Regions from separate parts of the Homo sapiens genome. Here regions 1 and 2 are each linked to region 3. Evidence: fine-mapped expression QTL. A gene starts in region 3. Each other region holds a variant in brackets. All regions are shown on one strand. Distances are from middle to middle. Region 1 has its middle 41 kb from the start of SDR42E1. Region 2 overlaps SDR42E1 (short chain dehydrogenase/reductase family 42E, member 1). Region 3 holds the start of SDR42E1 (short chain dehydrogenase/reductase family 42E, member 1).

The links.
Region 1: its variant is fine-mapped to the expression of SDR42E1 in blood mononuclear cells (TOPMed, PIP 0.94).
Region 2: its variant is fine-mapped to the expression of SDR42E1 in aorta (GTEx, PIP above 0.99). The same link has a PIP of 0.9 or more in esophagus muscle, sigmoid colon and whole blood.

The regions. Positions count from the first base shown.
Region 1 is chr16:81,966,159-81,974,345 of GRCh38, reverse strand. No RefSeq gene overlaps it. Among named protein-coding and RNA genes, the nearest start is that of SDR42E1, 41 kb to the left of the region's middle. The variant A/G (reference allele first, on the strand shown) is at 3,935.
Region 2 is chr16:81,981,317-81,989,503 of GRCh38, reverse strand. SDR42E1 (short chain dehydrogenase/reductase family 42E, member 1) reads left to right here. Exons shown (of 3, transcript NM_145168.3): 3 at 1-649. Among named protein-coding and RNA genes, the nearest start is that of SDR42E1, 26 kb to the left of the region's middle. The variant T/C (reference allele first, on the strand shown) is at 3,635.
Region 3 is chr16:82,006,881-82,015,067 of GRCh38, reverse strand. SDR42E1 (short chain dehydrogenase/reductase family 42E, member 1) reads left to right here and starts at 3,598. Exons shown (of 3, transcript NM_145168.3): 1 at 3,598-3,681. It overlaps LOC112268169 (a long non-coding RNA gene), which reads right to left. Exons shown (of 2, transcript XR_002957879.2): 2 at 7,174-7,601. RefSeq lists enhancers at 3,254-3,333, 3,344-3,433 and a silencer at 3,674-3,823.

The DNA.
Region 1 (8,187 bases), 41 kb after region 3:
GATACCACTAAATTCAGATTTTTCATGGTGCCAGAATTCTTGTGCTAGTTCCTTCTCATCTGGAGATGCTGACTCTTCTAATTCTTGTAATTATTTTCATGTGGGTAGGATTTCTTTTCTTTTTCTTTCTCTATAATATTACCGGTTTTTTCTTCTTTCCCTTTCCCTTCCCCACACCACCCCCGCTACTGCCCCCAGGAGTTGTGACTGTAGAGAATGTGGGTAGGGTCTTTTGGCTTTGCTTCTATAACCCTATGCACTACTTTTGGCAGGTTTTGTATTAGGCTTTGTGGTTTGACTTACAAACCAGTAGAGGGTACTTAAGGGTAAGAGGCAGCTGCAGCCAACATGCTGGGTATATACTTGCCCTTTGTTTACTACTAGAAGCTCGCCGTTGCCTCAGGAAATGGGCTGATGCATGGAATGCACAGTCCTCTGAGCTTCCTGCTTAGCCCCAGGAAGAGGGGGGCATGATGGGCAGGACCAGACCAGGTAGGCCTACCTACAGGTCCCCCAGTGGCAGGCACAAGCACCAGTGCTGAGGGAGAATCCAGTGGGCAGCCACCAGATACCCAGAGGTGGGCCTAGGCATGGAGCTGGAAAACCTCCTCAGCCCCAAGTTATCTGTACAGATCAGGGGTCAGCCTAAATTCCTAATTCAGGAGAGTGGGTGCTTCAGCTGCCTAGAGATATGCCTGGGCATGGGACAGAGAGGTCCTCGCTTTACCATCGTCTCTACACAGGAAGGGTGGGCTGGCTCAGACTACTCATTCAGGCAAGGAGGTGCTCTGAATGCCTGGACATCTGCCTGGGCATGGAGCGGAGAGGGCCCTGTTTCACCACAATTTCTGCAGAGGAAGAGTGGGGCAACTCCGGCTGCTGATCCAGGTCAGTGGAGATCTGCCTGGGTGTCAACCAGAGAAGGCCCTGGGGCACTACAATCTTTTTATGAACTAGACATCATCACAGGGGCTGTTTGCCTGTGTTCTTCTACCCAGGATCTGAGGTTTTCTTTACAATTCTAGTGGATTCCAATTTTCCTTCTCCAATTAAAGCTCAGAGAGTTTAGGCACTACTTTGCTATTTCCAAGTGGCTGAGGCATGTTAAAAACCTCTAATCCACCACCTTGGAAAAAAAAAAAACACTAATTCACTAAAAGCTTTTATGTGGCATATGTGTTTCATATTATCAATTTCCTTATGGAAAAGCATAATCTATTAATGTAGAGAACTGCATTGATAGGTTTTCCAATATTAAACCATTACTGGATTCCTGAGATTAACTCTACGTTATGAACAAGTGAACATTGGTTTGCAAATATTTTTCAGGATTTCTACTCTATTTAACAGTGAGATTGGCATCATCCTCCCTCCCTTTCTCTCTGTTCCTTTCACTTTTCTTGATTTTCCCTCTCTTCCTTGATTGTCCTCTACCCTCCTAAAATGAGCTTAGGAGGTCTCTTTTTTTTGGTCTGTCACCTTATAATTTTTATTCAATAAAAATATATTCTGTAGTCAGGAATAGTGGTTCATGCCTGTAATCCCAGCACTTTGGGAGGCCAAGGCAGGAGATAGCTTGAGGCCAAGTTTGAAAACAGCCTGGGCAACATAGCAAGACCCCATCTCTACAGAAAATAAAAAATAAATTATCCAGGCATGTGGCTGCATGCCTTTAGTCCCAGGTATTTAGGTGGCTGAGGTGGGAGGATCATCTGAGCCTAGGCGTTCAAAGTTACAGTGAGTTGTGACCCTAACATTGCACCCCAGCCAGGGTGACATGAGCAAGACCCTGACTCAGAAAGCTTTCACGTGTGTGTGTGTGTGTGTGTGTGTGTGTGTGTGTGTGTGTGTGTTCGTGTGTTCCTTCTCTTTTGGGAACAGAAAGCCCAGACACAGATCATTGAAATTATCCAGCCAGAGGAGCAAAAACAGGAAGAAGAAGAGAAGTGGGGGGAGGGGGAAGAAGGGAGAGGTAAGAGGAGGGGGAAGGAGAGGAAGAGGAAGATGAGGGAAGGAGAAGGAAGGAAGAACAGAAGGAAGGAAGAGGAAGAGAAAAAAGCCTCACAGACTTATAGGACACCATAAGCAGACCAAAATACTCATTATGTTAGTTCCAAAAGTAGAAGAGATAAAGAGACAGAAAGCTTCTTTAAATAAATAATGTCCAAAAACTTGTCAAATCTCTGAAAGAAAATGGACCCAAAGGGAATAAACTCAAAGAAGTCCATATTGAGACATCAGTTGTCAAAAGTCAGAATTTTGAGAGCAACAAAAGGGACTAATTACATACAAGGGAACTCCCATAAGAATCAGTGAATTTCTCAGCAGAAACCTTGCAGGCCAGAAAAGAATGGGACAGTATATTGGGAGTGCTGAAAGGAGGGGGAGAAAAGGTTGTTCAAGAATACTGTATCTGGCAAACTGTCCTTTAAAAGCAAAGGAGAAATAAAGACTTTTTCAGATAAAATTTGAAGAAGTTCATCACCGCTAGGCCTGAATAACAACAAATACTAAAGTTCTTGAAGTTTAAACAGACTCTAAGCAGCCATACAAAAGCATATGAAAGTATAAAGTTTGCTGGTAAAGGTAAGTATATAGCTAAACACAGAATACTATATTGTTAGTGTATACATCACTTTTAATTCTGGTACAGATGTTAAAAGCCAAAAGTATTTAAAAACTATGAAAATATGTAAGGGATACACAATATAAAAAGATAAAATTTATGACATAATTGACAAAGTTTGGAGGAAAGAGTAAAACTGTAGAGTTTTTCAATGTGATTACAGTTGTTATCAGCTTAAAACAGATTGTTACAACTATAAAATGTTTCATGTAAGCCCTATGTTAGCTACAAAAATTACAAAAAATCAACAAAGGAAGACAGTGAAAGAAGAAAAGGGACAAAAGAGCTGCAAGACAGACAGAAAATTATTAACAAAATGGCAATAGTTAGTCCTTTCCTATCAATAATTAAATGTAAATGTATTAAACTGCCCAGTCAAAAGACACAAAGTAGCTGAAGGATAACAAGATTCAACTAGATGCTGTATATAAGAGACTGACTTTAAGTTTAATGACACACATATACTTAAAGTGATAGGATGGAGAAAGATACGCTAAGCTACTAAAAGAGGGGTGACCATACTTAAACAAAATAGACTTTAAGTCAAAAGCTGCTACAAGAGACAAAGAAGGACAGATAATGATTAATGGGTCAGTTCACCAAGAAGATATAATAATTGTAAATATGTATGTACCAAACATCAGAGCACTTAAATATATGAAACAAACATCGGCAGAACTGAAGGGAAAAACAGCATCGCAATAATAGTAGGAGATTTCAGTAATGAATAGAACATCTAGACACAGGATCAATAAGGAAACAGAGGGCTTGAAAAATACTATAAATCAAATGCACCTAATAGTCATATACAGAACATTCCACCCAACAGTAGCAGAATACACATTTTCTCAAGTGCACACAGAAATATTCTCCAGGACAGATCACAAAGCAAGTCTTAACAAACTTAAGAAGATTGAATTCTCAAATTTATTTCCAACTACAGTGAAATGAAACTAAAAATCAGTAGGAGAAGGAAAATCAGAAAACTCATAAATATATGGAAATTAAATAACACCTACTCTGGAACAACCAATGGGTCAAAGAAGATATAAAAAGGTAAATTATAAAATATCTTTAGACAAAACAAAAACATAACTCATGGAGAAAAAAGCAGTAGGAAGAGGAAAATTTGTGGTGATAAATTCCTACCTCCCAAAAGAAGAGCTCAAATAACCTAACTTCTATACCTCAAGGAATGAGAAACAAACAGACTAAGCCCAAAGATGGCAGAAGAAATGAAATAATAAAGATTAAGGTAGAAGTTATCAAAGTAGAGAATAGAAAATTAAGACTGAATCATAAAGAAAT[A/G]GAACATCTGAACAGACTTTTAGCTAGTAAGGAGATTCAATCAGTAATCAAAAACATCTCAAAAAAGGCCCAGGACCAGAAGATTTTGCTGATGAATTCTATTAAACATTTAAAGAACAATTAAGACGAATGCTTCTGAACTTTTAAAAAGTAGAAGAGGAACGAATACTTCCGAAGTCATTTTATGAGGCCAGCATTACCCCAGTGCCAAAGCCAAAAACAGACATTACAAGAAAAAAATAATGCAGACCAATATCCCAGATATAGATGCAAAATTCTTAACAAAATACAAGCAAACCACATTCAATAGCACATTAAAAGGACATACACCATGATGACTAAGTGGGATTTAGTCACTTATAAGAGACTGGAGAGTATCCCTAGGACATAAGAATGATTACAAATATGCAAATCAAAAATGTGATACACCACAGGAACAGAACAGAGGATAAAAATTACATGATCATATCAATAGAAACAAATTGCGTTTGGCAAAATTCAACACCCTTTTGTGATTAAAAAAACTTAGGAAACTAGGTGTATTAGTCCATTTTGTGTTGCTATAAAGAAATACTTGAGATTGGATAATTTATTTTGGCTTTCAGTTCTGTGGACTGTGAAGCATGGTGCCAGCATATGCTTCTGGTAAGGCCTCATGAAGCTTTTAGTCATGGTGGAAGAGAAGGGCAGCCAGTGTGTCATATGGCAAGGGAGGTAACAAGAGAAATGCCAGGCTCTTCTCAACAACCAGCTCTTAAATGAACTAAGAGTGAGAACTCACTCATTACTGTAGGGAGGGCACCAAGCCATTCATGAGGGATCTGCCCCCATGACCCAAACATCTCCCACTAGTCCCTACCTCCAACACTGGGAATCACATTTCAATATGAGATCTGGAAGGGATGACTATCCAAATCATATCACTAGGAATAACAAGGAAATTACCTCAACATAATAAAGGCCCATATATGAAAACACGACAGTTAACATATTCAAAGGTAAAAAACAAACTTTTCGTCTAAGATCAGGAAAGAGGTGAGGATGCTCACTCTCACCACTTCTATTCAGCATACTAGTGAAGGTTCTAGCCAGAGCAAGTAGACAAGAAAAAGAAATAAAAGGCACGCAAACTGGAAAGGAGGAAGAAAAATTATCTTTGTTCACAGATAACATGATTTTAGGTGTAGAAAATCCTATAGATTCCACCAAAGGGGAAAAAAACTGTTAGAACTAATAAATTCAGTAAAGTTACAGGATTCAAAGTCAGCATACTAAAATTAGTTATGTTTCTGTACACCAACTACAAGCAATCTGGAAAGGAAATTACAGCAATCGCATTTATAACAGCGTCAAAAAGAAAACACTTAGCAATAAACTTAACCAAGGAAATGAAAGACTTGTACACTGAAAACTATAAAATATTGCTGAAAGAAATTTAAAACACAAATAATGGAAAGACATCCTATGTTCATGAACTGGAAAACTTAATATTGTTAAAATGTCCATATTACCCAAAGTGATCTACAGATTCAATGTCATTCCTACCAAAATCCTAATGGCATTTTTTACAGAAATAGAAAACACAATCCTAAAATTCATATAGAACCACAAATGATCCCAAATAGCCAAAACAATCTTGAAAGAGAACAAAGGTTGAGGTCTCATACTTCCTAATTTCAAAACACACTTCAAAACTACAGTAATAAAATATTATGGTACTGGCAAAAGACAGACATATAGATCAATGGAACAGAATAGAGAGCCCAGAAATAACCCTATGCACCTAAGATCAACCGATCTTTGACAAAGCTTCCAAGAATACACAGTGGGGAAAGAATAGTCTCTTCAAAAAATGGTGTTGGGAAAACTGAAAATCCGCATGCAAAAGAATGAAATTGGTCTCTTAACTTATATGTGAAAATCAATTTAGAATTGATTAAAGACTTAAATATAAGACTTAAAGCCATAAAACTGCTAGAAGAAAACAGAAGAAAAGCTTCATGACATGGGTCTTAGCAGTGATTTCTTGGATATGACCTCAAAAGCTTGGGCAACAAAACAAAGGTAAGTAGAACTGTATCAAACTAAAAAGCTTCTGCACACAGCAAAGGAAATATTCAGGAGAGTAAAAAGGCAACCTCTGGATTGAGAGAAAATATTTGAAAACTGTACATCTGATAAGGAGTTAATATCAAAAACAAGGAATTCCTATAACTCAATAGCAAAAACCCACAATTTTTTAAATGGGCAAATGACTTAAATAGACATTTTTCCAAAGAAGACATACAAATGGTCAACAGGTATATGAAAAGATGTTCAACATCACTAATCTTCAAGAAAATGCAAATTGCCCAGGCGTGGTGGCTTACGCCTGTAATCCCAGCACTTTGGGAAGCCAAGGCAGGCAGATCACTTGAGGTCAGTAGTTTGAGACCAGCCTGACAGACATGGTGAAACTCCATGTCTACTAAAAATACAAAAAAATGAGCCGGGTATGGTGGTGTGCACCTGTAATCCCAGCTGCTTGGGAGGCTGAGTCAGGAGAATCTCTTGAACCTAGGAGGCAGAGGTTGCAGTGAGCCAAGATCTCAGCCCTGCACTTCAGCCTGAGCGACAGAGTGAGACTCTGTCTCAATAAAATAAAATTTAATTTAATTTAAAAAAAAAAGAAAATGTAAAAGCCACAGTGAAATATCACCTCACACCCTTTTAGGATGGACATTATTAGAAAAATATGTATATAACAAGTGTTGACGAAGATGTGGAGAAATAGGAAACCTTCTGCACTGTTGGTGGTAGAAGTGTAAAATGATGCAGGCATTATGCAAAGCAGTGTGGAGGTTCCTCAAAAATTAAAACAGAGGTACTATACGTTCTAGCAATCCCACTTCTGCATATTTAGCTAAAATAATCAAAATCAGGAACTGAAGGAGAGATTTGCACTCTCCAGTTCATCGTAGCATCATTCACGATAGTCAAGAGGTAGAAACAACTTAAAGTGTACATGGACAGATGAATGGACAAAGAACATGGGGTATAGGCATACGATGGAATATTATTCAGTCAGAAAACAGAAGGAAATCCTGTCAGATGCTACAACTTGCATCTTGAAGGACATTATACTAAGTAAAATACGCCAATCATAGAAAGACAAATACTGCGTAGTTCTACTTATGTAAAGCATCTGAAGCATTGAAACTCATCTAAGCATAAAGTAGAATGGTGGTTACCAGGAGCTGGGGGAAATGGGAAATTGCTGTTCAGTGTATATAATGCTTCACTCATGCAAGGTGAAAAAGTTCTAGAGACCTGTACCACTTTGTGCCTGTAGTTAACACTGTACTGTACTCTTTAAAAAACAGGGTAAATCTCATGTCATGTTGTTTTGGGTTTTTCTTTTGGCCACAGTAACAAAAAAAAAAAAAAAAAAAAAAAAAAAAAAACTTTCTCTGGAATGTTTGGTAGAAGTTGCCCATGAAATCATCTGAAATTGATGCCATGGGGTGGGAGGTGCATGTCTTTGTTTTTTCTATTTCTTGGATGATAATTGGATTAGTCTTATTTGTTTTTTCTATTTCTTGGATGATAATTGGAATAGTCATATTTTTAGTGATTCTTAGACATTTGGTCGTTTTTATTTTAATATAATATTACCTATTTTGTCTAGGCTTCCAAAAGTCTTACTATAAAATTATTTTTACTCCTGGTAGTGTTGATTTGTGCTGCTTTTTTTCCCCTTGACTTTTAAAAGAACCATTTTATCAATTTTAGTTTTGTTTTTTTGGATTTTCTTGTTTTTTACCCTCTTTAGAGTGTTTTCCCTAGCTTCTAAGTTAAAGCGTAGATCATTTATTGTCACTTTTTCTCATTTTACAATAAATGCATTTAAAATTCTAGTATTTTTTTTCTGGGCAGTTCTGTCCCTTTCCTGAAATACTTTTGTCCCTTCCCTAACATATTCCCTAAAAATATTTTAGAAATAGCTTTTAAACTTTGTGATCATAGGACTTTTGGGGAGCATCTTTTTGTTTGTGATTTTCATGTGGCGCCAAGTTTAATCTTGTATTAGAGCAATTAAAATTGTTTCCCGCTCTGTGGCTTGTTGTACAGTCAATATTTGTAAATGTCCTGTGTTTGAAGAAAATTTGTATTTTCTGGATCCAAAATTTACTCTGTGTTTGCAGAAGCCTAATGTACCTTTGATCAGGCTGGTGACTTGTGTTTTTCAGATTCTCCTTATCCTTGTTTTGTGC
Region 2 (8,187 bases), 26 kb after region 3:
CACATTCAGAGTGCTTCTGTGTAACTTAGATTTAAAAGTAACTATACAAATAATGCATAGATGTATTTTTCTTATATAATGTTAAAATATTACGGATAAGGCCAAAGACCCCTTTTACTAATGTCCCCAAATTTCATATATGTATATATTTGTATAGAAAACAGGGCTGTGGTGTTCATGTCTTTCCCCATACTACTGTCTCCCACCTCACAGTTCCTTCTGCTACTACGGTTTCTCACTCAATAGTACAGCATGGTGATCTATTGATATTAGTATATATTCTTTATTTGCTGACATAGGAGGTCACCGGGTATATAAAGATGATAAGCATATGTCCTAGTTGGCCTAAGACAGTTCTGGTTTCATGCCTGTAGTCCCACCTTAATTTTTAATAGTGCTTCCTTTCACTCTCAGGTATGTCCCATTTTGTATAATAAATTGTACGATCACCCTATATATAAGACACATAGTTATATGAAGAATTAAGCATTTTTCATAACAGATGTATTAGAAGTTATTGTGAACTGATTTTGAGGGGAAAAAATCTCATTTTGTACTAGAATAGAATATAGTAGAAAATCCTGAATTCTGGGTATGTAGCAGTATTCTACCAACATTGAAATATTAATAAAAAATTACCTAAAGAAAATCTTATGTATAGTTTTTCAGTGCTTCTTTTGTGTATCCCTCAGCAAAATAGATTTACTGGTGGAAGAGTAGATGATCTGACACGCGGTCGTATGAAAGCAAACACTGGTTCGGTGGTTCACCGAACACTGGTAACTAGGAAAGACACAAAATAAAATATATCTGAACGAATTCCTCTACAGCACATGCAAAATAAAGCTAATATCAGTAGCAAACTATAATAAATTTGAATAAATTCCTCTGCAAGTAGCCATTGAACATGTAAAAGAATAAATATTTAGTCAATATTGGTACAAATTATGCAGCATAATACACTAGAAAGAATTCCAGTATCAACCTTGCGAAGGCAGCAAATTTAACTATATCACAGAACACTACAGTATTCAAGAAGCAAAAAGGAAAACATTTCGGTGAATTCAAATGGAACTTGATTTTCCAGTAAGTATAGCAACATCAGTCCAAAAGCATTTGTGAAATGCATCATATATGTTTTGCTTTTCATTTTCTCCAAACCTAAAAAGCCATCTAAAATGCCTGAGTATAGGTAATTCTCCTTATACTTAGCCGTCATTGTGTTAGTGATAGAGTCGATAACAGCCTCAAACAACCTCCTTCAATTGTCCTTCACAATGTTGTGGTTATTACTTCAGTAATTTTACTGCCTCAAACCTAGTAAACAAATAACATGGCTTTGCCTCGGCCAGCCCTATTAAGAACAGAGGTTAGGAACAGGTGGCACTGCCAGCTCCCACCCCTACCCCAGGCTGCCCAAGAAACCTGTCGTTCCCCAGCTGTTGATAGAGTCCTGTGTGCCACATCAGAACTTTCCTAACTTCTGCTGTCCACCTACCTCTGATTATGCTTCATGTACCTCCCCAACTTCCCTGCCAGTCTCCCAGGCATAGGCATGACTCATCTACCAGCAAAGGTGAAATCTGAGTTGGTAGATCTAACGCCTGGACTGCCTTTCCATTCCCCACCCTGGACACACATTCAGGGCACAACTGGCGCCAAGGAAGGAGGCTCAGTATGTGAGCTGGGTGGCGCCTGGCCTAGAGCTTGCCTTTGTAAGAACACTAGATGATTGCTACTTTCTCAAACAACGATGGCATAGAATATGTCTTATTTATGGCCATCAGATAAGGTAGATATACCTAGTTCTTAACAGCTGAACAGCATTCCATAGTGTAAATGTACCATGGTAGATTAAGGCATTTCCTTATTGGTGTTTATTCCGTTTGTTTCTAGCTTGCCACCTTATCAGACAGCACAGGCATGGATGCTCTTATATATATATATCTCCTTACATCCACGTTGAAATGAGCTGCTAGGATAGACATCCAGAAGTGGAATTAGAATTTTAATAGGGACTACTGTATCAGACATGCATTCAGCTGCGCATTTAAAAATTATTAACAGTGCCTTGAACAGTAGTTTGTTGTTTTCATGTAACAAGGGGTCCGGAAGTAGGCATACGTGGGATGACGCAGCTCAGTGGTAACATCAGGGACTGGCCCCATCTTTCGGCTCTGTTGGATCCTCATTCTAATGATTCTCACCGCGTGATTCTGAGAAGGTGGCTGCACCCTCAGGCATTATTACAGGCAAGAAGAAAAGGGAAGATAAACAAGGCCAAAGGGAAATGCCAGCTGGGTCTATTTCTTTTAAAAAGCCTTCCTGAAAGCCGACTCCAATTTCTTCTACTGGAAATGAGGGAGGAAGATGGGATTATAGGTGGGGCTTGAGTCAGCCATACTGTTCATCCGCTTCCAAAGTGGCTGTACAAATTTACCCTCCCACCAGAGTTCCTAGTGCCTCCATACCATTTCCAGAACTACCTTACATTTCCATATTTGCCAATCTCATGAGTTTTTTAATATCTCATTTTTTAAAACCTACCCTTTGTAATTACTACTCGAGAGCATCTTGCCAGGTATCTGTTAGACCTTGAGTTTCCTCTTATGTGAATTTCATAGTCATATTTTCCCCTACTTCTCTATTGGGTTGCTCATCATCTTTGCATGGATTTGTAGGATGTAAAAGACGTAACATCTTCTATCATGTAAATCATGGATAGTTTCTCTCTCCCCAACAGTTGCCTTTTAACTTAGTTTCAATTGTCTTTTTAATTATAGTAGTTTTAATTTTGTTGCTAAATTAATCATGGGGGGTTATATTTGTTTATGAAGGTCTTTCCCATTCTGAAGAAATAGATATTGTATGTTTTCTTTTAATAGCTTTAAAGTTTTATTTTTTACCTGTTTACCTTTATCTGGTATTTAGTTTTGTGCATGAGGTGAAGATCTAACCTGGTATTTTCTAAGTGAACAGTCAATTGTCTCAACATAATTTATTAATAATTATCTTTCTACTGAATTCAAATTCTCCCTATTCCCTCTCCTTCTCCTCAAGTTTATCTTTTACTGTGAAGATAACACAACTTCAGCTATTAAGGATTTATTAGGTCTTTTATATTTGCTAAGACATATCCCCACTCAATTTCATTTCATAATTGCAGGCTGTTTATATATACATTTTCCATATCCCTTTTAGAATCAGGTTTTATAGTTCTATGAAAATCTTGAGGGTATTTTTTCAACTGGGTTTGCTTTAATATTACAGTTAAATTTGGAGAGAATTGACATGTACAGTTTTGAGGCGTTGCCTTCATAAACATGGTATACGTCTCCATTTAGTTTTGTGTCCATTTATGAATCTCCATTTATGAATCTTCTGCAAATGATTTTTTTTTCTGAGACAGAGTATCGGAGTATCACTCTGTCGCCCAGGCTGGAGTGTGGTGGGGCAATGTCGGCTCACTGCAACCTCCACCTCCTGGGTTCAAGCGATTCTCCGGCCTCAGCCTCCCGAGTAGCTGGGACTACAGGCATACACCACCATGACCAGCTAATTTTTGTATTTTTAGTAGAGACAGCATTTAGCCATTTTGGCCAGGCTGGTCTCATACTCCTGACCTCCAGTGATC[T/C]GCCCACCTCGGCCTCCCAAAGTGCTGGGATTACAGGTGTGAGCAACCATGCCTAGCCAAGATTCTGCGTTTTCTATGTTAAGGTCTTGGATATCTTTTGTTAAGTTTATTCTAGGTAATTTAAGGTTATTATTTCTACTATTGTGAATATCTTTTTATTAGAATTATTCTAATGAGTTACTGATGATAAATGGAAGTATATTTGAATTTTATACATTGATTTTTATATCTAACTTGCCTTAATATATTGTTACTGGTTCTGCAAGTTAGCTCATTTTTCTTGAGGTTTCTAGGTAGATGGTTATAGCCATTCATAAATAATGACAATTTCATCTCCTTTCCAATTTTTATCTTAGTTCTTTTCTTGCTTATTGCTTTGGCCAGGATATCCTGTATAATATTAAATAATAGCAGTATAGTGGACAACCTTTGTTTATTCTAAGTGATGGTATTGTTTCCATATTTATCAAGCATGAAGTTCTGTGTAGGTAGGTTTCTGGTAGTTACCCTTCATCAAGTTGAGGCAGTATTCTTTACTTAGTTTGCTAAAAAAAAAATTTGTTTCTGGGTTTTTTTCTTTAATAATTTCAACTTTTATTTTAGATTCGGGGGTGCATGTACAGATTTGTTACATGAGTATATTGAATGATGCTTAGGTTTGGAATATGAATGATCCCATCATCGAGATAGCACAGGCCAGGTGCGTTGGTTCATGCCTGTAATCCCAGCGCTTTGGGAGGCTGAGGCAGGGGATCACATCAGGCCAAGAGTTCAAGACCAGCCTGGCCAACATGGCAAAACCCCTTCTCTACTAAAAATACAAAAATTAGCCGAGTGTGGTGGCACACATCTGTAATCCCAGCTACTCGGGAGGCTGAGGCATGAGAATCGCTTGAGCCCAGGAGGCAGAGGTTGGTTGCAGTGAGCCAAGATCGTGCCACTGCCCTCCAGCCTGGGTGACGGAGTGAGACTCTGTCTCAAAAAACAAAACAAAACAAAAACAGATAGCACAGTACTCAACAGTTAATTTTCCAACCCTTGCCCTCCTCTTACCCTCCCCACCTCTATTAGTCCTCAGTGTCTATTGTTGCCATCTTTATGTCCATGGGTATTCACTTATAACTCCCACCTATAAGTGAGAATGTGTGGTATTTGGTTTTCTGTTGCTGCATTAATTTGCTCAGGATTTTGGCCTAAGCTGCATCCGTGTTTCTTCAAGGGATGTGACTTTGTTCTTCTTATAGCTGTGTGGTACTCCACGTTGTATATGTACCACTTTTTTTTATCCAGTTCATGGTCGATTGGCATCTAGGTTGATTCCGTGTCTTTGCTATTGTGACTAGTGCTGCAGTGAACATACGAGTGCATGTGTCTTTATGGCAGAATGACTTACATTCCTTTGGGTACTTGCGCAGCGATGGAATTGCAGTCAAGTTGTAGTACTGTTTTAAGTTCTTTGAGAAATCTCCAAACTGCTTTACACAGTGGCTGAACTAATTTACATTCCCACCAAAAATATATAAGCATTCCCTTTTCTCCATAGCCTCACCAGCATCTGTTGTTTTGGGACTTTTTAATAATAGGTATTTTGACTGGTGTGAGATGGTATCTCATTATGGTTTTGGTTCGCATTTCTCTAATTAGTGATGTTCAGCATTTTTTCATGTTTGTATGCCACTCATATGTTTTCTTTTGAGAAATGTTTGTGCATGTCCTTTGCCCACTCATTTTAATGGGGTTGTGTTTTGCTCGTTGAACTGTTTAAGTTTCTTATAGATATTAGACCTTTGTTGGATGCATAGTTGGTGAATATTTTCTCCCACTCTGTAGATTGGTCTTTAATTGCTTCTGAGGACTTAGACGTAAATCTTTCCCATGCTGATGTCTAAAATCCTGTTTCCTAGGTTTTCTTCCAAGATTCTGGTAGTTTGATGTCTTACATTTTAGTAAGTCTTTAATCCATCTTGAATTAATTTTTTTATATGGTGAAAGATAGGGGGGGTCCAGTTCCATCCTTCTGCATATGGCTATCCAGGTATCCTAGCACCATTTATTGCATCTTTCCTCATTGCTTTTGTCAACATTGTTGAAGATCAGATGGCTGTAGGTGCACAGCTTTATTTCTGGGTTCTCTATTATGTTCACTTGGTCTGTGTGCCTTTTTTTGTACCAGTACCATGCTCTTTTGGTTACTGTAGTCTTAAAGTTTGAAGTTGAGTAACATGGTGCCTCTAGCTTTGTTCTTTTTGCTTAAGATTGCTTTGGCTATTCAGGCTCTCTTTGGGTTCCATACGAATTTTAGAATAGTTTTTTCTACTTCTGTGAAAAGTGATGTTGATAGTTTGATAGGAATACCAACGAATCTGCAGACTGCTTTGGGACGTGTGGCAGTTGTAATGATACTGATTCTTCCAACCTTTGAGCATGGAATGTTTGTCCATTTGTTTGTTTCATCTGTGATTTCTTTCAGCAGTGTTTTGTAGCACTCTTTGTAGAGATGTTTCAACTTATTGGTTATATGTATTCCTAGGTATTTCATTTTGTGTGTGTGGCTATTCTAAATGGGATTGCATTCTTGATTTGGCTCTCAGCTTGAACATTATTGGTGTATAGAAATGCTTCTGATTGTTGTACATTGATTTTGTATCCTGAAACTTTGCTGAAGTTGTTTATCCATTCCAGGAGCCTTTTGATGGAGTCTTTAGGGTTTTCTAGGTATAGAATCATATCATTCAGAAAGAGAGACTGACTTATTCTTTTCCTATTGGTATGCTTTTTATATTTTTTTATTGGGCCTGATTGCACTGACAGACTTCCAGTACTGTGTTTAATAGGAATGGTGAAAGTTGGCATCCTATGTTGTTCTAGTTCTCATGGTAAATGCTTCCAGCTTTCGCCCATTCAATATGATGTTAAAGCTGTGGGTTTGCCATCAATGGCTCTTATTCTTTTCAGGTGTGTTCCTTCTATGCCTAGTTTCTTGAGAGTTTTAACATGAAGGGATGTTGGATTTTCCCAAAGGCTCTTTCTACGTCTATTGGGATGGTATGATTTTTGTTTTTAGTTCTGTTTATGTGGTGAATCACATTTATTGATTTGCATATGTCAAACTAACCTTGCAGCCCAGGAGTAAAGCCTACTTGCTTATGGTGGATTAACTTTTGATGTGCTGCTGGATTCAGTTTGTTAGATGCAAAAATCCTCAATGAAATACTGTGTTCATTAGGGATGTTGGCCTGTAGGTTTTTTTCATTGTGTCTTTGCCAGGTTTTGGTATCAGGGTGCTAACTGGCTTCATAGAATGAGTTAGGAGTCCCTCCTCCTCAGTTTTTTGGGATAATCTCAGTAAAATAAGTACCAGTTCCTCTTTATATGTCTGGTAGAATTCAGCTGTGAATCCATTTGCTCCAGTGCTCTTTTTGGCTGATAGGATTTTTTTTTTCTTTTATTATTATACTTTAAGTTTTAGGGTACATGTGCACATTGTGCAGGTTAGTTACATATGTATACATGTGCCATGCTGGTGCGCTGCACCCACTAACTTGTCATCTAGCATTAGGTATATCTCCCAATGCTATCCCTCCCCCCTGCCCCCACCCCACAACAGTCCCCAGAGTGTGATGTTCCCCTTCCTGTGTCCATGTGATCTCATTGTTCAATTCCCATCTATGAGTGAGAATATGCGGTGTTTGGTTTTTTGTTCTTGCGATAGTTTACTGAGAATGATGATTTCCAATTTCATCCACGTCCCTACAAAGGACATGAACTCATCATTTTTTATGGCTGCATAGTATTCCATGGTGTATATGTGCCACATTTTCTTAATCCAGTCTATCATTGTTGGACATTTGGGTTGGTTCCAAGTCTTTGCTATTGTGAATAATGCTGCAATAAACATACATGTGCATGTGTCTTTATAGCAGCATGATTTATAGTCCTTTGGGTATATACCCAGTAATGGGATGGCTGGGTCAAATGGTATTTCTAGTTCTAGATCCCTGAGGAATCGCCACACTGACTTCCACAATGGTTGAACTAGTTTACAGTCCCACCAACAGTGTAAAAGTGTTCCTATTTCTCCACATCCTCTCCAGCACCTGTTGTTTCCTGACTTTTTAATGATTGCCATTCTAACTGGTGTGAGACGGTATCTCATTGTGGTTTTGATTTGCATTTCTCTGATGGCCACTGATGATGAGCATTTTTTCATGTGTTTTTTGGCTGCATAAATGTCTTCTTTTGAGTAGTGTCTGTTGATGTCCTTCGCCCACTTTTTGATGGGGTTGTTTTTTTCTTGTAAATTTGTTTGAGTTCATTGTAGATTCTGGATATTAGCCCTTTGTCAGATGAGTAGGTTGCGAAAATTTTCTCCCATTTTGTAGGTTGCCTGTTCACTCTAATGGTAGTTTCTTTTGCTGCGCAGAAGCTCTTTCGTTTAATTAGATCCCATTTGTCAATTTTGGCTTTTGTTGCCATTGTTTTTGGTGTTTTAGACATGAAGTCCTTGCCCATGCCTATGTCCTGAATGGTAATGCCTAGGTTTTCTTCTAGGG
Region 3 (8,187 bases):
CTTTCTCTATCCAGAGCCAAGAGATAAGGAGACAGGACTCTATGATGTCTGAGGCTCGACAACTAGATCCACCTTTTAAGCTTCCAGTTACAGGAGCCAAGCATCCCTACTTTTGATTTATCTATATTGGGATGGATTTCTATGATTTGCAACCCAAAGAAACCTGATGAACATAGTGGGTATCCTTACTTCTCAATTCCTGAAAACAGTGAGACAAGAAAATGGCAAATATAAGCTTTACTGTCTCAAAGGGTCCTTTGTGTCCTTCTAGGAGAGCCCCTAATGCTTCAGCACTGAACACAGAGCCCTTGCCAGGACACTCACAATAACATGTAGGTTTAGTCAGCACTATTTAAACACTTAGTTTAATCAGTACTGAGAGAGGCAAGGGTAACAATAATGAATTATTTCAAAAGTTTTTAATAGGAAAAAAGAAAAGCCATTGACCCAAATAGTATGCTTGATAATTCTTAATAAGTGCTATAAATGCTTCTAAAAGAATATTAAGTTGCTTAATTGCTGAATAAATGAAATATAAACATTATGTTACTTGGAGAGTTCTTTAATATGTAATGAGGAAAACCATTTTATGAAATGTACTGCATGTGATAAATGCTTGTTTTCTTTTCTAAAATCAATTATTGAAGCCATTAACCACTGTTTAAATATAGCTCAATTTTTTTCTGTCTATTCCCCTTTATATTTTTTTTATTAGTGAAAGAAAATAGGTTTATCTAGGAAAGACAGCTGCATGGTGAAATAGATGGAATGTGGAGGATATGGGAGTCAGAAGCCTTGGCTTTTTTTTTTTTTTTTTTTGAGACAGAGTCTCACTCTGTCGCCCAGGCTGGAGTGCAGTGGCGTGATCTCGGCTCACTGCAAGCTCCATCTCCTGGGTTCACGCCATTCTCCTGCCTCAGCCTCCCAAGTAGCTGGGACTACAGGTGCCCACCACCTCACCCAGCTAATTTTTTGTATGTTTAGTAGAGACAGGGTTTCACTGTGTTAGCCAGGATGGTCTTGATCTCCCGACCTCGTGATCCGCCCGCCTCAGCCTCCCAAAGTGCTGGGATTACAGGCGTGAGCCACCGCACCCGGCCAGAAGCCTTGGCTTTTAATCACAGGTCTGTCATTTACTAGTTCTGTGACCTTGGGTAAGTCACTTAAACTCACCTGATTTCCAGATGCAGTGTGGAACTATTACAAGGTTTCTCTTACCCACCTCAGAGAGTTGTAGTGCTACTACTACTAAGTCATAGCACTTTTAGGGCAGTGCTTATCAGCCTTTACTATACATAGGAATTACCTAGGGATTTTGCTGAATACAGATTTGTATTTATTAAGCCTAGAATGGGATCCAAGACCCAACATTTCTAATAAGCTCTCAGGTGATGTTGATGTTACTGATCCACACTTTTGGATAGCAAAGTTCTCATGTGCCTACCAAGCTCACAATAATTTCCGTTCTTTAGAAATGACCACAGTTTATAGCAGTTCTTGTGTCCTTTTGCCACAGCTGACAATGGTAGAGGTGATTTCTGATCCAAGCTGGGCCAAAAGAAGGTGTCGTTTGCAAGCCTGGGATTTTGAACAGGGACAACCAGAAATGTGACATATATTCATTTGCTGATTCATTCACCAGTAAAAAAAAAAAAAAAAAAAAAAAAAAAATTCTGTCTCTATGCCAGACACTATAGTAGGTAGTGGAGATACACCAATCAATCAAGCAGGTCTCTGCACTCACGGAGCTTTCATTATAGCAACATGCAAGATAATTTCAGATGAGCTAAGTGCTGTGAAGAGATTGAAGAATTTCAAGGGGATGCAGGAGACTTTAAGTGAAAGTGTTGGGGAAAGCCAAGCTCTTACTTCCTCTTCTGTAGTGACCTTGGCAGCCAAGAGTTGAACATGATGGCATAACAAATGGGGGAAGCCTGGGTCCCTGAGTGATTATGTGGAGCACAGCACTCTTCCCCTTCCCTGCAGACTGAATTGGACTGTGATCGGAGTGAGAAATAAAATACTGCACACCTGTGAGTAATTGTGACAGCAAACTGATCTTTCTGAGATGCATCCACTGCCTGGACATATTATTGGGGGAAGACAATACTAAACAAACACTGATATACAAACTCACATTGAAGTTAATTTCTTTCTCCAGTCATTTCTGTCTTAGATCTCTTGGTCAGACCTTTATAAAATCAACTCACTAAATTATGATGGAAGCTAAGGAAGCAATTATAGAGTTTGTAATTTTCCTTTAAAACACGCCTGATTATATTTTAAAAGAGTCCTCGGTGGCACAAGAATACTAACATTTAAATTCACCATTTCTCATGTTTATCCACACACTCTAAATCTGGGTATCCCTCAGAGGATCCTGTAATTCCCCAAAGGAAGTCTGTCTTCTTTACTGCATCCTCAGTGGGTCTTTTCTTCCTTAGCTGCTGGCCTCAAGAGCATATAGCTGGTCTCTCAGCCCCCTGAATACCCTTCCTCTTCTCTTCTAATTTTTATGTATCCTAAGCAGCCACTGCAAAGCTGTTCTTTAAGACTGCTTAGCACAAGAAGTCTCCTGTGACTTATGCCTGCCTAATAGGTGAGGACAAGACAGGCAGGAAAGCCAGAGCATCCTATGAGAGAGGCCAGTGCCAGGGACTGGCACTTCTTGATTTCTTCACCTGGGCTTCATTAATTTTTATATCCTAGGACTTGAGCTTTGTCCTTGTGACTGTGTGTGCTTAGTGAAAACTGAGCAGTAAATCAGGCAATTGATATGAACCTCTCTGAGTCTGCCTTTGGTACCAGATCTATCGGCAAGAGCACCACATGAAGTCAAAACTTCCATCCTCCAAGACACTAAAATGAAATCCTCCCCAGCCAGGGGTCCATTCCAGGATGCATGTCCATACACGTGTACAGTCTGCAACCATCCACAGAACCACACTCATGATGAGGAGACAAAAGATGGGCCTCAAAAGGAGACCTCTGAGTGAGGATGCCAACTTTCCTTTCTGCATTCCTTGGTTCCTTCAGCAACAAAGATTAGTCTTGGCATCACTGCCTGCTTGGCGACCAGAACAAAGAGAAATAAGGAAAATTAGGGACACAGGAAAACCTATGGGCACACATAGATATGGAAACTCAGAGATAATAGAAACTTAAAGAGATACATGGAGAGTGAATATTCTGCCTCCCTATAGAGCCTTTTCCATCATCCATCCACCCAAGCAATGCTGACCTGAGTGCCTATTTATCAGGCACTGGTCTTGGCCTTGGGGATAAACAAAGATGGAGGTGAAAGTCTAAAAGCAGACACTGGAGGTGGGAAGAGCAGTTGACGTGGCCCTAACAGGGTTCCCACCACGGCGGAACGCACAGACAGGGGACGTGGGGGAAGACGTGACCCTAAAAGGGTTCCCGCCACGGCGGAACGCACAGCCAGAGAACGTGGGGGAATTCATGAAGCGAACCTCCTGCTACCTCAACGCCGGTGAAGGTGAAGGAGACACCTGCGCGTCATAGAGACTCCGAGACCTCCAGGCTTCCTAGAGAGGCCCGGAAGTGGCTCCAGGAGGCAGGTCCGACGGCTTCGGCGCCCCAGCTGTGGTGATGGGTAGCTAGGAGGCCTGGGCCTCTCTGCCTGCTGTAGCCGTCTGCCGCGCCCTTGTTCCTGCAGCTGTGAGTGGGCCTGGGCTGGGGTTGGGGGGCCGCCGCCCTTCCGCGGGGACCCTGGACCGCCTCGGCCTGGAACGCGACAGGTGGCGGTCCCGGGGGTGGGGGACGGTGGTGAATGACTGAGCAGGGTGGCGGGAAGGAGTATCCCCTTTCAGATGTCTTCCTGATCCCAGGGGACCGGGCGCAGCTTGGCTTTCTAGAATGTCGCCAAGGCCTCAAACACTGGCCCTCCGCATTTTTTGTTTTTAAGGACATCGGGGCCCCAAGCTCCGAACTTTCCACAGGTGGCTGGCTATACTTGATTCCTGTCTTTGATTTTCTGCACACTTTGGGAGAACGATTACCTCCTCTTTATCACTTGGTTCTGGTTTGCCACTTAAAAGTGGCAGTGACAGGTTCCCATTTAAACTGCATGTATTTGTTGGGAAAAGGTAAGTAGGTTTAAACAAAACCTTATAGGCTAGTCATAATACCAGATGAATCAGATGTGACAGAAATTGTGGAGGTGGAGTGAGCCCTGAAAATCTGAGACGGGTCTCAGTTCATTTAGAAAGTTTATTTTGCCAAGGTTGAAGACATGTACCCATGACACAGCCTCAGGCGGTCCTGACGATGTATTCTTAATGTGGTCAGAGCCCAGTTTCGTTTTCTACATTTTAGGGAGACATGAGACAAGAACAGATGTAAGATGAACATGTTTTTCGGTCTGGAAAGGCGGGACAACTCGAAACGGGGAGGGGGCTTCCAGGTCATAGGTAGGTAAGAGACAAATGGTTGCATTATTTTGAGTTTGATTAGCCTCTCCAAAGGAAGCAATCAGATATGCCTTTATTTTAGTGAGCAGAGATACATGAATAGAATGGGAGGCAGGTTTGCCCTAAGCAGTTCTCAGCTTGACTTTTCCCTTTAGCTTAGTGATCTTGGGACCCCAAGATTTATTTTCCTTTCACAGTGATAAGATAATGACCTAAGCGAATCTGTATTGTCCCAGCCTTATTGTGCGGCATTACATGTAGTGGTTAAGAGTCATACAGACCCGGCTTCAAGTCCTGAACCCTGCCCAACCCCTTATGACCTGCATAATTTGTGGGCAAGGTTCCTAACCTCTGATCTATTTTCCTCATTTCTGAAAGCTGATGATAATACTAGTAACAACTTCGGAAGATTGTCCTGAGGCTTAAATGCTAAACCTTTAAACTACCTGTATTAATCCATTCTCATGCTGCTAATAAAAACATACCCAAGACTGGGTAATTTATAAAGTTAAGAGGTTTGATGGACTCACAGTTCCACATGGCTGGGGAAGCCTCATAATCATGCCAGAAGGCAAAAGAGGAGCAAAGTCACATCTTACGTCTTATATGGTGGCAGGCAAGAGAGCTTGTGTAGGGGAACTCCCCTTTATAAAACCATCAGATCTTTTGAGACTTATTCACTATCAAGAGAACGGCATGGGAAAAACCCACCCCTGTGATTCAGTTACCTCCCACTGGGTCCCTCCCAGGACACGTGGTAATTATGGGATCTACAATTCAAGGTGAGATTTGGGTGGAGACACAGCCAAACCATATCATTCCGCCCCTGGCCCCTCCCAAATCTCATGCCCTCACATTTCAAAACCAATCATGCCTTCCCAACAGTCCCACAAAGTCTTAACTCATTTTAGCATTAACTCAAAAGTCCACACTCCAAAGTCTCATCTGAGGCAAGGCAAGCCCCTTCCACCTATAAGCCTGTAAAATCAAAAGCAAGTTAGTTACTTCCTAGATACAATGGGGGTACAGGTATTGGGTAAGTATACTCATTCCAAAAAGGAGAAATTGGCCACAACGAAGGGGCTACAGGCCCCATGCAAGTCTAAAATCCAGCGGGGCAGTCACATCTTGAAACTCCAAAATGACCTCCTTTGACTCCGTGTCCCATATCCAGGTCATACTGATGCAAGAGGTGGTTTCCCATAGTCTTGGGCAGCTCCACCCTTGTGGTTTTGCAGGGTACAGCCCCACTTTTGGCTGCTTCCAGGGCTGGCGTTTAGTGTCTGCTGCTTTTCTAGGTGTACGGTGCAAGCTGTTGGTGGATCTACCATTCTGGGGTCTGGAGGATGGTAGCTCTCTTCTCACAGCTCCACTAGGCAGTGTCCCAGTGGGGACGCTGTGGGGTGGTTCCAACCCCACATTTCCCTTCCATGCTGCTCTAGCAGTGGTTCTCCATGAGGGCCCCACCCCTGCAGCCAACTTCTGCCTGGACATCCAGGAGTTTCCATACATCCTCTGAAACCTAGGGAGAGGTTTCCAAACCTCAGTTCTTGACTTCTGTGTACCCACAGGCTTAACACCGCATGGAAGTTTCCAAGGCTTGGGGCTTGCACCCTCTGAAGCCCCAGTTTGAGCTGTACCTTGGCCCGTTTTAGCCACAGCTGGAGCAGCTGGGACGCAGAGCACCAAGTCCCTAGGCTGCATAGAGCAGGGGGACCCTGGACCCAGCCCAGGAAACCATTTTTGCCTCCTAGACTTCTGGGCCTTTGGTAGGAGGGGCTGCCAAGAAGGTCTCTGACATGCCCTGGAGACATTTTCCCCATTGTCTTGATGATTAGCATTTGGCTCCTTGTTACTTATGCAAATTTCTGCAGCCAGCTTGAATTTCTCCCCAGAAAATGGGTTTTTCTTTTCTTTTGTATCATTAGGCTGCAAATTTTTCAAACCTACACTCTGCTTCCTCTTGAATGCTTTGCAGCTTAGAAATTTCTTACCCCAGATACCCTAAATCATCTCTCTGAAGCTCTGACTTACACAGATCTCTAGGGCAAGGACAAAATGCCATCAGTCTCTTTGCTAAAACATAACGAGTCACTTTTGCTCCAGTTCCCAACAAGTTCCTCATCTCTGAGACCACCTCAGCCTGGACTTTATTGTCTATATCACTGTCAGCATTTTGGTGAAAGCCATTCAACAAGTCTCTAGGAAGTTCCAAACTTTCCCACATCTTCCTGTCTTCTTCTGAGCCCTCCAAACTGTTGCAGGCTTTGCCTGTAAACCAGTTCCAAAGTCACTTCCACATTTTCAGATATCTTTACAGTAGCACCCCACTACCCAGTGCCAATTTACTGTATTAGTCCATTCTCATACTGCTAATAAAGACATTCCCAAGACTGGGTAATTTATAATGGAAAGTAGTTTAATGGACTCACAGTTCCACGTGGCTGGGGAGGCCTCATAATCATGGCAGAAGGCAAAGGAAGAGCAAAGTCACGTCTTACATGGTGGCTGGCAAGAGAGTTTGTGTAGGGGAATTTTCTTTTATAAAATCATCAGATGTTGTGGGACTTACTATCATGAGAATAGCACAGGAAAGACCCGCCCCCATGATTCAATTACCTCCTACCGGGTCCCTCCAGGACACGTGGGATTTACGGGAGCTACAATTCAACAAGAGGCTTGGGTGGAGACACGGCCAAACCATATCACTGCCTAACCCATAATAAATAATAAGTGTAGCCATGGTTGTTGCTGTTTTTATTTTAGGGCGGAGGAAACAGAGGTTCAGTGAATTGCCTAGGGTAACACAGGGAATTGGTGGAAGAGCCAAGTCTAATGCCCAGATTTCCAAACTGGGAGTCTTAACCCTTCATCAGTGCTACCTGTGCCACATGGGAGAAGATGGGCCACCTCCAATTCATTTTCTCTGGGAACTGCAGGAACCACAATGAGGTTGCAGAATGTGTTAACAGTGAAAGCCCTCACAGGACTCAGGTCAGTACCAAGCACTTCAGGTAGGGGCTCTGCACAGCCTCGAGTGCTGCTGCGTTAAGATGAACTGTAGAGTCAGATGCACCTGGGTTATTGGTACAGATCCCTGCTCTACCATTTGCTAGCTGTAGGACTTGGAGTTAGGCACTTTGTGTCTCTGAGCTTCAGTTTTCTCACCTGTAAAATGGAATTAACAAATTAGTACTCATCTGAGAGGGTTGTGAAATAATTCACAGACAGAGTGTTGCACAATGCCTGGCAGAGAGTAAGTGCTTAATAAGTGGCAGTTGATATTACTTCAATTACTAGATATTAATTCAATTACTTGGTATTACTTCAATTTATAGACGTGGCAAACTGCTGACCTAGTGAAGAAGAAAGTACAAGTGTAGTACTCCTTGCAGATAGGACAGAAAGAGGCATTTGAAGAGCTTGCAAAATGTTCACCCCATTTATATTTACTGGGTCTACAATCTGCTAGATATTCCTTGTCCCTATAGATATTGCCAGTCTGTACTCACATGGCATTTATACTGTAGCTTGGGAAACAGATGGGAAATACCAGTTACAAAATTATTTCATTTCTTTGTCATCAGCATTGTGAGGAATTGCAAGGCACTTGTGCCACAAGTATCTAGGCAGAAGTTTAGGTAGCCGAACAAGATTTGAAACACCTCAGGTGATGACCCTGAATTATAGACAGCTGTCCTGCTACCTAGTTATATTCAAAACCCTGCATAAATACCCATATCTATTACGAGTA